Linked DNA regions of Homo sapiens: region 2 is linked to region 1. The links come from fine-mapping of genetic effects on gene expression. A gene starts in region 1. The other region holds a variant in brackets. All regions are shown on one strand. Distances are between the middles of the regions. Region 1 holds the start of TRABD-AS1 (TRABD antisense RNA 1). Region 2 overlaps MOV10L1 (Mov10 like RNA helicase 1).

Region 1 (5,365 bases):
AGGGATGTTTCCATTTATTTATGTTTTCTTTATTTTCTTCATGTTTTTCAGTTTTCACTGTTCAAGTCTCTTCCTTCTCACAGCCACTTCAGACGTTAGCCTCAATCTTGGAGAACTGGTGAGGCCAGGGACCCCAGGACACGTGTGGGGATGTCAGGCAGGGCCTGAGTAAAGGTCAAAGGACTCCTTAATTTTTAGGAGAAAATATATTCTAGCAGCTCTCAGGTCTGAAAGCAGTGAGTTAATACTCAAGTCTTCAAACATAAAAAGTGTCTTCCAGCGACAGATTACTCTCATAAAAAAAATTGTCTTTTTAACTTTAAAATATCACCAAAAATGAAAACATAAAGTTTAAGATGATCGCCAAAAAGAAAAACAAAAATTAAAAAAAAAAAATGCTCACAGGACAAGCAGGCCCCAGGCTGAGCAGCATTTCCACCACGTTCCAAGGGTCAGAAACGCTCCAGTGGGCGGCCGGTGCTGTCAACTCTAAGCAGGTCGCTGGGGGTGGGGAGGGAGAGCCAGAGCCAGGTTGCCCTCAGACACAGAACAGAACGGATTTGGAGACGGGGGAGTGAGGAAGACCCTCAGTCTGAGGAGCTTGCTTGGGAGATGGAGCCCCGGGGAAGGGATGCTGAGGGACCGAGGGGCATTTCAGGTGCTGGAGGGGGAGGTGATGAGAGCACAGGGAGGGGCCGGATGAGATGCGGGTTTAGCATTTCTCTGAACATAAAATGTACACTTTCCTAGTCATTCACAAAAGCAGTAAAGAATATGGAGTAAGTACATTGTTTAGTAGAAAAGAGCAGAACAGACCCAAGCGCTGTCTATACACAGGAGGCAGGTGGCGCGTGCACGGCTCCCCGGTGGGCCTGGCGGCATCTGGACCCAGATCCTGCCTTATTAGACCACCTGTGTGCCCCCCCACAGAAATCTAAACGATGCCCACCTCACTTCGGGGTTAAAAAGGGCTGCCCGCAGGGAAGTCAGGGCCAGGCCTCCGTGAAGTCAGTCGCAGAGCGAGGCTGCTGGACGAAGCGGCCCGCCCCACGAGCGATCGGAGGAAGGCTGGGGACCTGCGGGGTTAGGGTTAGGGTTAGCCTAACCTCTCATCCCGGCTCCCGCCCCTGGGTTTGGAGCCCCAGCGAACGTCGGTAAACATGAGCGGCGTCCCTGGTGGAGCTGACTCCAAGGTCCTCGGCGGGTTGATAAGCACAGGGCGCGGGCGGCTGCCAGCACCGCGCTCCCGCGGGTGCAGGGGAGGCCCCACTTGGCAGTAGCCGCCGGACGCCCCCAACACCGCGCCGGGCGGAGGGAAGGGGCGCCCCGGCGGGGAGGACCCACCCGCGCCCCTCGCCCGCCCCGGCCCACCTGGAGAAGGGCGTGGGCCCGGCGCCCTTGAGCTGCAGCTCCCAGCGCTCGCCGGTCGCCGTGCACACCTCGCCCAGGTACATGGCGGCGCCGTCGCCCAGCTGCCCGGCGAACTGGCCGAATTGGTGGCCGCAGTAGCAGTGCGCGGCGGGCTCGGCGCCCGGCAGGAGCGCGTTGCCGCTGAAGAACAGCGCGGCCTCGGCCTCGGCCTCGCGCGCGGGCGGCGCGCCCAGGCCCAGCAACGCCAGCGCGGGCTCTGACAGCGCCACGAGGCGCGGCTGCCGCAGCGGGGTGGGCTGCACGCGGGTGAAGCAGGCCCCGGGCACGGGCCGCGGCGCGGACGGGGCGCCCTCGGGACCGGGCGGCGGCGCCTCCACGGGCAGGGCGCGCAGGGCGCGGTTGTCGAAGCGCAGCCCCGCCAGCCAGCGAGGCGCGGGCTCCATGGCGGCGCCCGACAACGTAGAGCGGGGCGCCGGCGACGGGGAACAGCGACCGAGGGGCAAGAGTCGGGCAGCCGCGAGCGAAGCCCCGAGCGCTGCCCTGTATACGGCCATCCGCGGCCCCGCTCCCGCCGGAAGCCAGCCTGCCCCGCCCGGAAGCCCCGCCCCGCGCGTCCCGCAACCCAATCGCCAGTGGGCGAGAGTGGGGCGGGTGGGGGGAGGGGTCGCGGTGTCTGGCCGGGCTCTAATTGGCTGCCTCGTCCGTCTATCCGCATCTCCCGGCCGGAGGGTCGGAGGCGTCCGGGGTGGCTGTCGGCGTCACGGGGCGCGCGCTGATGCGAACGGGGTGACAGATGGGAACGCCTCCGAGACCGCCAGCGACGACCCCGCTCGGGCAGCCCCGGATTTCCTCGGCTGCACCGGCGCCGGCAGCGGGGACCGAGGCCCGCGTCCGTTCGGGTCGGGCCGGGGCTTAGCCCCGCGCCCCACGGGCGGCCGGGACCCCACCCGGACCCCGCCGCGGTTCTGGGCCGCCGGAGCCTCGCGCCGCCTCTCGGGGACCTTGTCCCCTGGCCTCCGGCCTCTCGGGCCCCTCGCCTGCCGTCTAGGAGGGAAGGGGCCTTGGATCTGTGCCCCGCCCATGGAACAGCGCCCGGGCTCGGAGAGGCCCCGCGAGGCCGCAGGCGCAGACCCTCCCGGAGGGCTGGGCGGGCACCGGGGTCTTCGGCTGGCTTGAGGGACCCGACCCCTGGGGGAGGAATTTGGGGTCTGTGTGTCCGAATGAACGCGGGGGTTCAGATGAGTCTGTGGTGCCCCCGCTTTCCATCTCCTCCGGCCCCGGCCCCAGAGGACTGTCTGAGAGGCCGGTGGCCGCGGATCCTGGACGCGCCTCCCTCCTGCCTGTGGTTTCCCTTTATTCCGGCAGCGGCGCGAGCCCACCCTTCACATACAGGAGCTACATCCAGAAGCTTCTCCTGGGGCCACAGCGTGGGCTTCCGAGACTCTGCGTGACCCCAGCTCTGCCCCTTTGGGGCTGCGGGTGAAGCCCTCAGGACCCTCCGCGTGCGTTGGGCAGGTAACTGGATGAGGGATAATGTGGTGAGGTCCCCGTGCCCAACCCTCCTCTGCAGCCCACAGCAACCGTTCCCTCTTCAGCAGCCCCCTCCCCCCGGCCGCTCTGGGCGCCCGTTCCCAGCATCCTCCTTGGCAGGTGTTACCCCTCCCCATTCCCCAGGCCCTGGGCCCTCCTGATCTGTCTCCTCGACCCCCTGGGGCCCCAGTCTGGCTCAGTCTGGTCCACACTCTGGAATCTGGTGGGACTGGGTATGGAGGGTCTTGAGTGTCAGCAGGCCACCTGCGTCCCACCTGGTGGGTGAGAAGGGTCCCACAGGTCAGCATGGAGGGACCCGACTCTGTCTCTTCTGCTGGAAACCAGGCAGGTTCCTTCCCCCAGGGCCCCGGCAGGGCCACGAGTACCCGCTGCACTGGAGCACGGGGGAAGAGGCAGGGATCCTTCATTACCTGAACCCCATGTTCACACGTCACAAAACAGGAGTTTCCAAAATTAGAATTTATTTCAGTTTCTAAGGAATGAATCCCCGAGTGTGGCAGGAAGGACACAGCCGGCTCCTGACGCACACCTGATTTGATTCAACACCGAGTCGGCACAGACACAACCAGAGATGGCCTGGGTCCAGGCTGGGGCTGCACGGGCTGTGTCCTGGACAGCCAGGAGGGAGGCCCCGCACACAGACGGCCGCCGGGCAGGGGGCCTGAGCGGGACAGGCCTGGCCACAGCCCATGTCCTTGGCCTTCCACATAGGTGCACACATTGTCTGCCCAGAGAGGGCCAAGATGCCCCAGGCACCCCTTCGCTCCGGGGGCTCAGGACACAGGCTCCCAGCTGAGGCCACGCCTGGACCCAGAGCTGATGTTTGGCTGCACGCGAGCCCACTCGGGACAGACCCAAGAACACGAATTCTCTCCCTTTGGATTTAAGGCTGGTGTTTTTTGACATTTACTTCAGTTTTTCTCTCTGAAATTAAAATTACCTGAGTAAAAGATTTTAAGACATTAAAAAAGCCAAAAACACAGAATCCCTGCAGGCAGACGGTGCCAGGGAGGTGGCGGCCAGGGCCAGGATGCCAGGGGCACGGTGGGGTCGGCTGGAGCTCCAGGGCTGGGCCTTTCCCAGTCTCGCCTGCCCTGGAGCCCCCAGGAGCCGCCCCTGGGCCGACGCTCCTGTGGCCGGAGCACAGGAAGGCACAGTGAGGTAGGGACAGTGGCCATTGTCCCCCGCCTGCCACCAGGGCTGAGAGGGCAGCGCACGCCTCGGCCCCTCCTATAAGCCCCTGCCCCCTCGGAGCTGGGTGTCTTGTCCAGAAGCTGGGGAACGGCCCCTGCAGTGTGGGAGGGGAGGGGCTGCCGGGAGGCCTGAGCTCAGACAGTTAAATAATCCTTTATTTGGGTGGGCTGGGGGAGGGGTGACTGGCCCAGGAGGGCAGGCGAGGCCGGGCCCAGACCCCCATGGGGGGTGGCAGGGGCCTCGGGCGGGCTAGGATGCACCTGGCACCCAGAAGTGCCGCGGGGGCACTGGCTCCTCAGGGGCCCGAGCGGGCGGGGAGCAGTCTCCTACTTGTGCCGGGCCTCGGTCACCCTCTGCAGGCAGTACTGCGCGGCGGGCAGCGACAGGACCAGGCTCGCGGTGCGGCGGCCCATCCAGTACAGGCTGTAGCCCAGCAGGCCGAAGAAGGCGGCCTTCACGGCCAACCGAGACACTCTGCCGGAGACGGACGGCGGGGGCACGCTGTGGGAGGGAGGGGGCGCTGGGCCTGGCTGGGGGTGGGCTCCCCATACCCCAGCCCCCATGCCTGGGTCACTGCCGCATGTGGTTGGCCTCCAGGGCGCTCAGCCTCCACCTGGGGGCTTGTGGGGTGGGGCTTGCAGGGAGGGGCGGGCACTCACGTCATGATCTCCTGGATGTTGAGGTCGGTGCTCCAGTTCTTCTCGATGCCAGGCACGTGGCCCATGCCCACGACGCCCACGACCACGGAGGGGACGCACTTCCTGGGCTCGGCTGTGGGGAAGGACAAGGGGTCAGTACCTGCTCGGGCCTCAGCCTCACAGGGGGTCCCACGCCTGCGGGCGGCCGTCACCGTCAGAGGCCCGAGGCAGCTCGAGGCGCCGCGCGGCCTGGCGCAGCATGTAGGTTAGGTAGACGTCGCGCTCCGAGACGATGGTGCGGTGCAGGTCTGGGAACTCGCCAATCATCTCGGCCATCATCTGCTCCAGTAGGTCCTTCTGCTTGCAGCGTTCCACGTCATCCTTGCTGTGGAGAGGGATGGCTGCAGCCCCGCAGGGATGGGCAACGGGCTGGGGGGGTGGGGCTGGCACTGTGGACACCGGGCAGGGACCACAGCACGTTTGTTTGGGATTTGTGGCGGAAGGAAAGGGCAGGGAAGGCCTTGAGTGAGGATTGGCTGCGCTTGGACCTGCACAGGAGGGCCTGGAGCCTCCCACAGACCACCCTGCAGGCCGGCCAGGGTCCCGGGGGC
Region 2 (5,365 bases), 67 kb after region 1:
GGCTCACTGCAACCTCTGCCTCCTGGGTTCAAGTGATTCTCCTGCCTCAGCCTCCTGAGTAGCTGGGATTACAGGTGTACACCATCATGCCCGGCTAATTTTTGGATTTTTAGTAGAGATGGGGTTTCACCATCTTGGCCAGGCTGGTCTTGAACTCCTGATCTCATGATCTGCCCGCCTCGGCCTCCCAAAGTGCTGGGATTACAGGCGTGAGCCACTGCGACCGGCCTAGAAGTTTTTATAAAATATCTTTGCAACATTCACAAAGTTTGCAAATGTTAACAATTTGCGGGGTGTGTATCCTTCCAGACATTTTCCATGCATACACAATCACATAAATGTACCTAAGTGTACACATAAACCATATAATTTAAAAATAAAACTCTAAGGCCGGGTGTGGTGGCTCACGCCTGTAATTCCAGCACTTTGGGAGGCCGAGGAGGGTGGATCACAAGATCAGGAGATCGAGACCAGCCTGACCAATATGGTGAAACCCTGTTTCTACTAAAAATACAAAAATTAGCTGGGTGTGATGGCACATGCCTGTAGTCCTAGCTACTCTGGAGACTGAGACAGGAGAATCACTTGAATCTGGGAGGCAGAGGTTGCAGTGAGCCAAGATTGCACCACTGCACTCCAGCCTGGGTGACAGAGCGAGACTCTGTCTCAAAAAAAAAAGAAAGAAAAGAAAAAAGAAAAAGAAAAAACCCAACTCTAAGGTCATATAAACATCTGTACTTTGCTTCCCCTATTTAATATATTGTAGCCATCTTAGCCCTGCATCTTAGCCCTTGCATATAAACTTTACACTAAATCTATTTTTGAATATTTTAGTTCACTTTATTTTAACTGCAATTTTGAGTTATTTGTGAACCACACTGCTCTAATACTCCAGTCAACTAAGCGCTAATACTCCGAGAAGGAAACGCCCACCCCCTGTGTAGACAGTTACATCGCTGAGCCATCCCCTGTGTAGAGACAGTCACGCCGCTGAGCCACCCCCTATGTAAAGACAGCCACGTCGCTGAGCCATCCCCTGTGTAGAGAAAGCCACATTGCTGAGCACTACCTTTTTGCTGGTGGACTGTCCACTGCTTTTGGTGTCTTGTGCATGGTTCCAATTTCCCGTCACTTGTGGAGACTGTAAAATAATTTCTTCTGGAAACAACACTTTTAAAACAAAAAATGGTAAGAGCACGGGTATAACTAAAAAGCTAAAAAAATATTAATAGAGGTTGTTTATGGCTGACCCTAAAGCAATTAATATTCTATTCCCTTCCTTTCTTAACCTGCCTGTTATACTGTTTCTAAATTATAGCATTATTAGTACTGCATATTCTTCACAACAAAGCCCTTTATTTGCCCATCTGTAAAAATTCATAAATTACATTTATGAAGGGAAAAGCGAGCAAGATAAATTTATTTTCGGTTATTTAAGCATGCTATTATTAGTTATTCACTAAGTTGAAATAGTAAGAAAACACTAAAACTTGATAGAAAATTAAAAACATGAATATAACAAAAGTTTTACTTCTAATATTATGACTGAAGAGACTATTTTACACAAAATTTTACATGAAGCCTATAAAAATACTCTGTGAAGATGTAACACTATCATTCTATAAAAGTAATACCTTTTACACCTAAGTGGATGACGTGTTCAAGTGCAAAGTGACACCGTCTGCTTGTGGTCCTGCAGGAAAGAAAACCACATAAAATAACTAACCTTACATTCAGAAATATTAAGGCTGGCATAAGGTAATGAAAATTTTATGATACAATCTTTAAGTCAATATAAAAAAATCACAGCAACAATCCAACAATCAATGAAATAGAGAACAGAAAAACACTAGAGAGGACGGGCGCGGTGGCTCACGTGTGTAATCCCAGCACTTTGGGAGGCCGAGGTGGGTGGATCACCTGAGGTCAGGAGTTCGAGACCAGCCTGGCCAACATGATGAAACCCTGCCTCTACTAAAAATACAAAAATTAGCCAGGCATAGTGGTGGTGCACGCCTGTAATCCCAGCTACTCAGGAGGCTGAGGCATGAGAATCACTTGAACCTGGGAGGCAGAGGTTGCAGTAAGCTGAGATGGCACCACTGCACTCCAGCCTGGGTGACAGAGTGAGACTCTGTCTAAAAAAATTTTTGTAAAAACCACTAGAGAATACCAAAGAAGCCAAAAAAAAAAGCATGGGACAAAATCCCACACCCATTCTTTCTTTCTTTTTTTTTTTTTTTTTAGAGACTCTGCTCTGTTGCCTAGGCTGGAGTGCAGTGGCACAGTCAGAGCTCACTGAAGCCTCAAATTCCTGGGCCCATGTGATCCTCCCACCTCAGCCTCTCAAAGTGCTGGGATTACAGGTGTAAGCCACCACACTTGGCCCCATATCCATTCTTGATTAAAAACTCACTAAAATAAGAATCTATCTCCTCAACCTGATAGAGGGCCACTACGGAACCTACCACCCACGCTGTACTAACTCGCTCAGGACTGACAGCCCTGCCCCTAAGACCAGGGACAAAGCCAGTGCAGCACTTGCCACCACTTCTATTCCACACTGGCACACAAGTTCCAACCAGCGCAGGAAGGCAAGGAAAACAAATACACAGCATCCAAATAAGAGAAGAAGAAGTAAAACTGTCTTTGGTTTTTTTTTTTTCAGACGGAGGCTTGCTCTGTCGCCCAGGCTGGAATGAGTAGCGTGATCTCGGCTCACTGCAACCTCCGCCTCCTGGGTTCAAGCAATTCTCCTGCCTCAGCCTCCCAAGTAGCTGGGATTACAGGTGACCACTACCACGCCCGGCTGATTATTTGTATTTTTAGTAGAGATGGGGTTTCCCCATGTGGGCTAGACTGGTCTCAAACTCCTGACCTCAGGTGATCCGCCTGCCTTGGCCTCCCACAGTGCTGGGATTACAGGTGTGAACCACCACACCCAACCTAAAACTGTCATTCTTTGAATCAATGATTATATATGTAGAAAATTCTACAGACTCTAGGAGAAGCTACTGGAGCTATTCAGTTTAGGAGACTTGCAGGATACAAGGTAAACATACAAAAATCAATTGCTTTTTATAAATACTAGAAACAAGCAATTAGAAATTTAAGTTAAATTTACTGTTTATAACAGCCATTTAAAAATTTTAAATAGGTATAACTGACAAAAGATCTATAAGACCTATACACTGAAAAGTATAAAATATTGCTAAAAGAAATGAAAACAGATGCAAATAAATGGAGAGACATACCCTTTTCAAGGGCTGGAGGACTTATTATTATTAAGATTTCAATTCTCCAATTCTCCCTTAAACCGACCCATAGGTTCAATGTAATCCCAATCAAAATCCCAACAGGCTTTCTGTAGAGA[C/G]TGACATGACCTAAAATCCATGTAAGAAGAAAGACCTGGAACAGCCAGACAACCTTGAAAAGGAACAAAGTTGGAGGCTTGATACTACCTGATTTTGAGACTTATCATAAAGGCACATATCATACACTAGGTTTGTGTTCCCCCCAGCTTCGTATGGTGAAACTTCATCCCCAATGTGATGTTACTGGGTATGAGGAGTTGAGGCCTTTGGCAAGTGATTAGGTCATGAGGGTGGGGCCTCATGAATGGAATTAGTGCCCTTACACAAGGGAGCACAGAGAGCTCTCCCATCCCTTCTGCTGCGTGAGGACACAGGGAAAAGACAGCCGCCTACGAACCAGGAAGCAGTCTCACCAGGACACTGAACCTGCTGGTGCCTTGACCTTGGGCTTCCTGACCTCCAGAGCATGAGAAATACATTTCTGTTGTTTATAAGCCACCCCATCTATGGTGCTATGCTAATGCAGCCTGAGTGTACTAAGACAGACAATAAGACCCTGTAATGTTGGTGTCAAGACAGACAAGTGTACAATGGAACACAACAGAGAGTCTTCAGAAACAGATCAACAAATATTTGGTCAACTGATTTTCTTTTTTTTTTTTTCACAAAGGTACAATAGTAATTCATTGGAGAAAGGGCAGTTTTTTCATCAAATAATGCTTGGACAACTGGATGTTCATTCCACCCTCCAATTTCCATTCATACCCCACAAACAATTTGCAAAGCTTAATGAGATAGATCATAATCCTAAATGTACAGGATAAAGCTGCCAAGTTTCTAAACAGGATAAAATCGTTGAGATCCAAATTAGTTACAGATTTCTGAGATGCATCATTAAAAGATCTGTGAAAGAAAACATTCATAAACTGGACTTCACCAAAATTAATAATTTCTGCATTTCAAAAGGCACTATAAAAACAATGAAAATACAAGCTGTAGTCTGAGGAAATATTTGCACAGACACGTATCTGATAAAGCACTGTACTGAAACTATACAAACATCTCTGCAAACTCAATCATGAGAAAACAATTTTTTAAAATGGGCCCAAAGACTTGAGGAAGGACTTCAACAAGTATTTTGTACAAATGGCAAAAAAGCACATAAAAAGATGTTCAGTGGCCGGGTGTGGTGGCCCACACCTGTAATCCCAGCACTTTGGGAGGCCAAGGTGGGCAGATCACAAGGTCAGGAGATTGAGACCATTCTGGCTAACACAGTGAAACCCCGTCTCACTAAAAATACAAAAAAAAAAAAAAAAAAATTAGCCGGGCGTGGTGGTGGGCACCTGTAGTCCCAGCTACTCGGGAGACTGAGGCAGGAGAATGGTGTGAACCTGGAAGGCAGAGCTTGCAGTGAGCCGAGATCGTGCCACTGCACTCCAGCCTGGGTAACAGAACGAGACTCCGTCTCAAAAAAAAGAAAAAAGAAAAGATGTTCAGCATCATTAGTCATTAGAAAAATACAAATTAAATCCACAACGAGATATCCCTTCACACTACAAGAATCAGCTCTGTTCCAGAGTCAAAGCAGGTCAAGGAGTCCAGGCCTGGACGTCGGCTGCAGTCTCTCTAGCTGCCATGATGGAGGCTGTGTGCCTTCTACCAGCGCTGCTGCTCCCTGTGGTCCCAGCCAACCCTCACACGTCATCATCCAACACAGCTGCCCCTTCCTTCCCATTCCTGGGTCTTCTCATGGCACTCACATGCTGGGGTCTCTCATCTTGCACAGCAAACAAAAAGTACCCCCCTCCTGGTCCTCCTGTATCTCTTTGGTCACCAATTTCTCTCGCTCTCTCTCCATCCTGCCCTCCCTGCTTTCATCGGCAAATGCCTTAAAAAGGAATCAACGACATTTCTCCATTCCCCCGTAGTCCATTCATTCATTCTCAATACATTCCAATCTGGCTGTAGCCCAAATACTGCCGATTTCTCAGACAGACATAAAAAGCACTAATATTAAAAAAAATTTGATAAATTTGACTATATTAAAA

The links. PIP is the estimated chance that this variant, and not a neighbour inherited with it, causes the effect. A credible set is the group of variants that fine-mapping cannot tell apart.
Region 2: its variant is the best candidate, but not a certain one, in a credible set for the expression of TRABD-AS1 in whole blood (TOPMed, PIP 0.64).

Annotation. Positions count from the first base shown.
Region 1 is chr22:50,197,597-50,202,961 of GRCh38, reverse strand. It overlaps TRABD-AS1 (TRABD antisense RNA 1), which reads left to right and starts at 2,179. Exons shown (of 2, transcript NR_186698.1): 1 at 2,179-2,886; 2 at 3,634-3,874. It overlaps TRABD (TraB domain containing), which reads right to left. Exons shown (of 10, transcript NM_001320485.2): 8 at 4,967-5,139; 9 at 4,776-4,887; 10 at 3,367-4,617. The coding sequence ends at 4,443. It overlaps SELENOO (selenoprotein O), which reads right to left and starts at 1,951. Exons shown (of 9, transcript NM_031454.2): 1 at 1,372-1,951. The coding sequence starts at 1,925. RefSeq lists an enhancer at 882-1,121 and silencers at 1,482-1,561, 1,692-2,631.
Region 2 is chr22:50,130,335-50,135,699 of GRCh38, reverse strand. MOV10L1 (Mov10 like RNA helicase 1) reads right to left here. Exons shown (of 27, transcript NM_018995.3): 14 at 1,635-1,693; 15 at 1,070-1,170. Among named protein-coding and RNA genes, the nearest start is that of PANX2, 38 kb to the left of the region's middle. The variant C/G (reference allele first, on the strand shown) is at 3,374.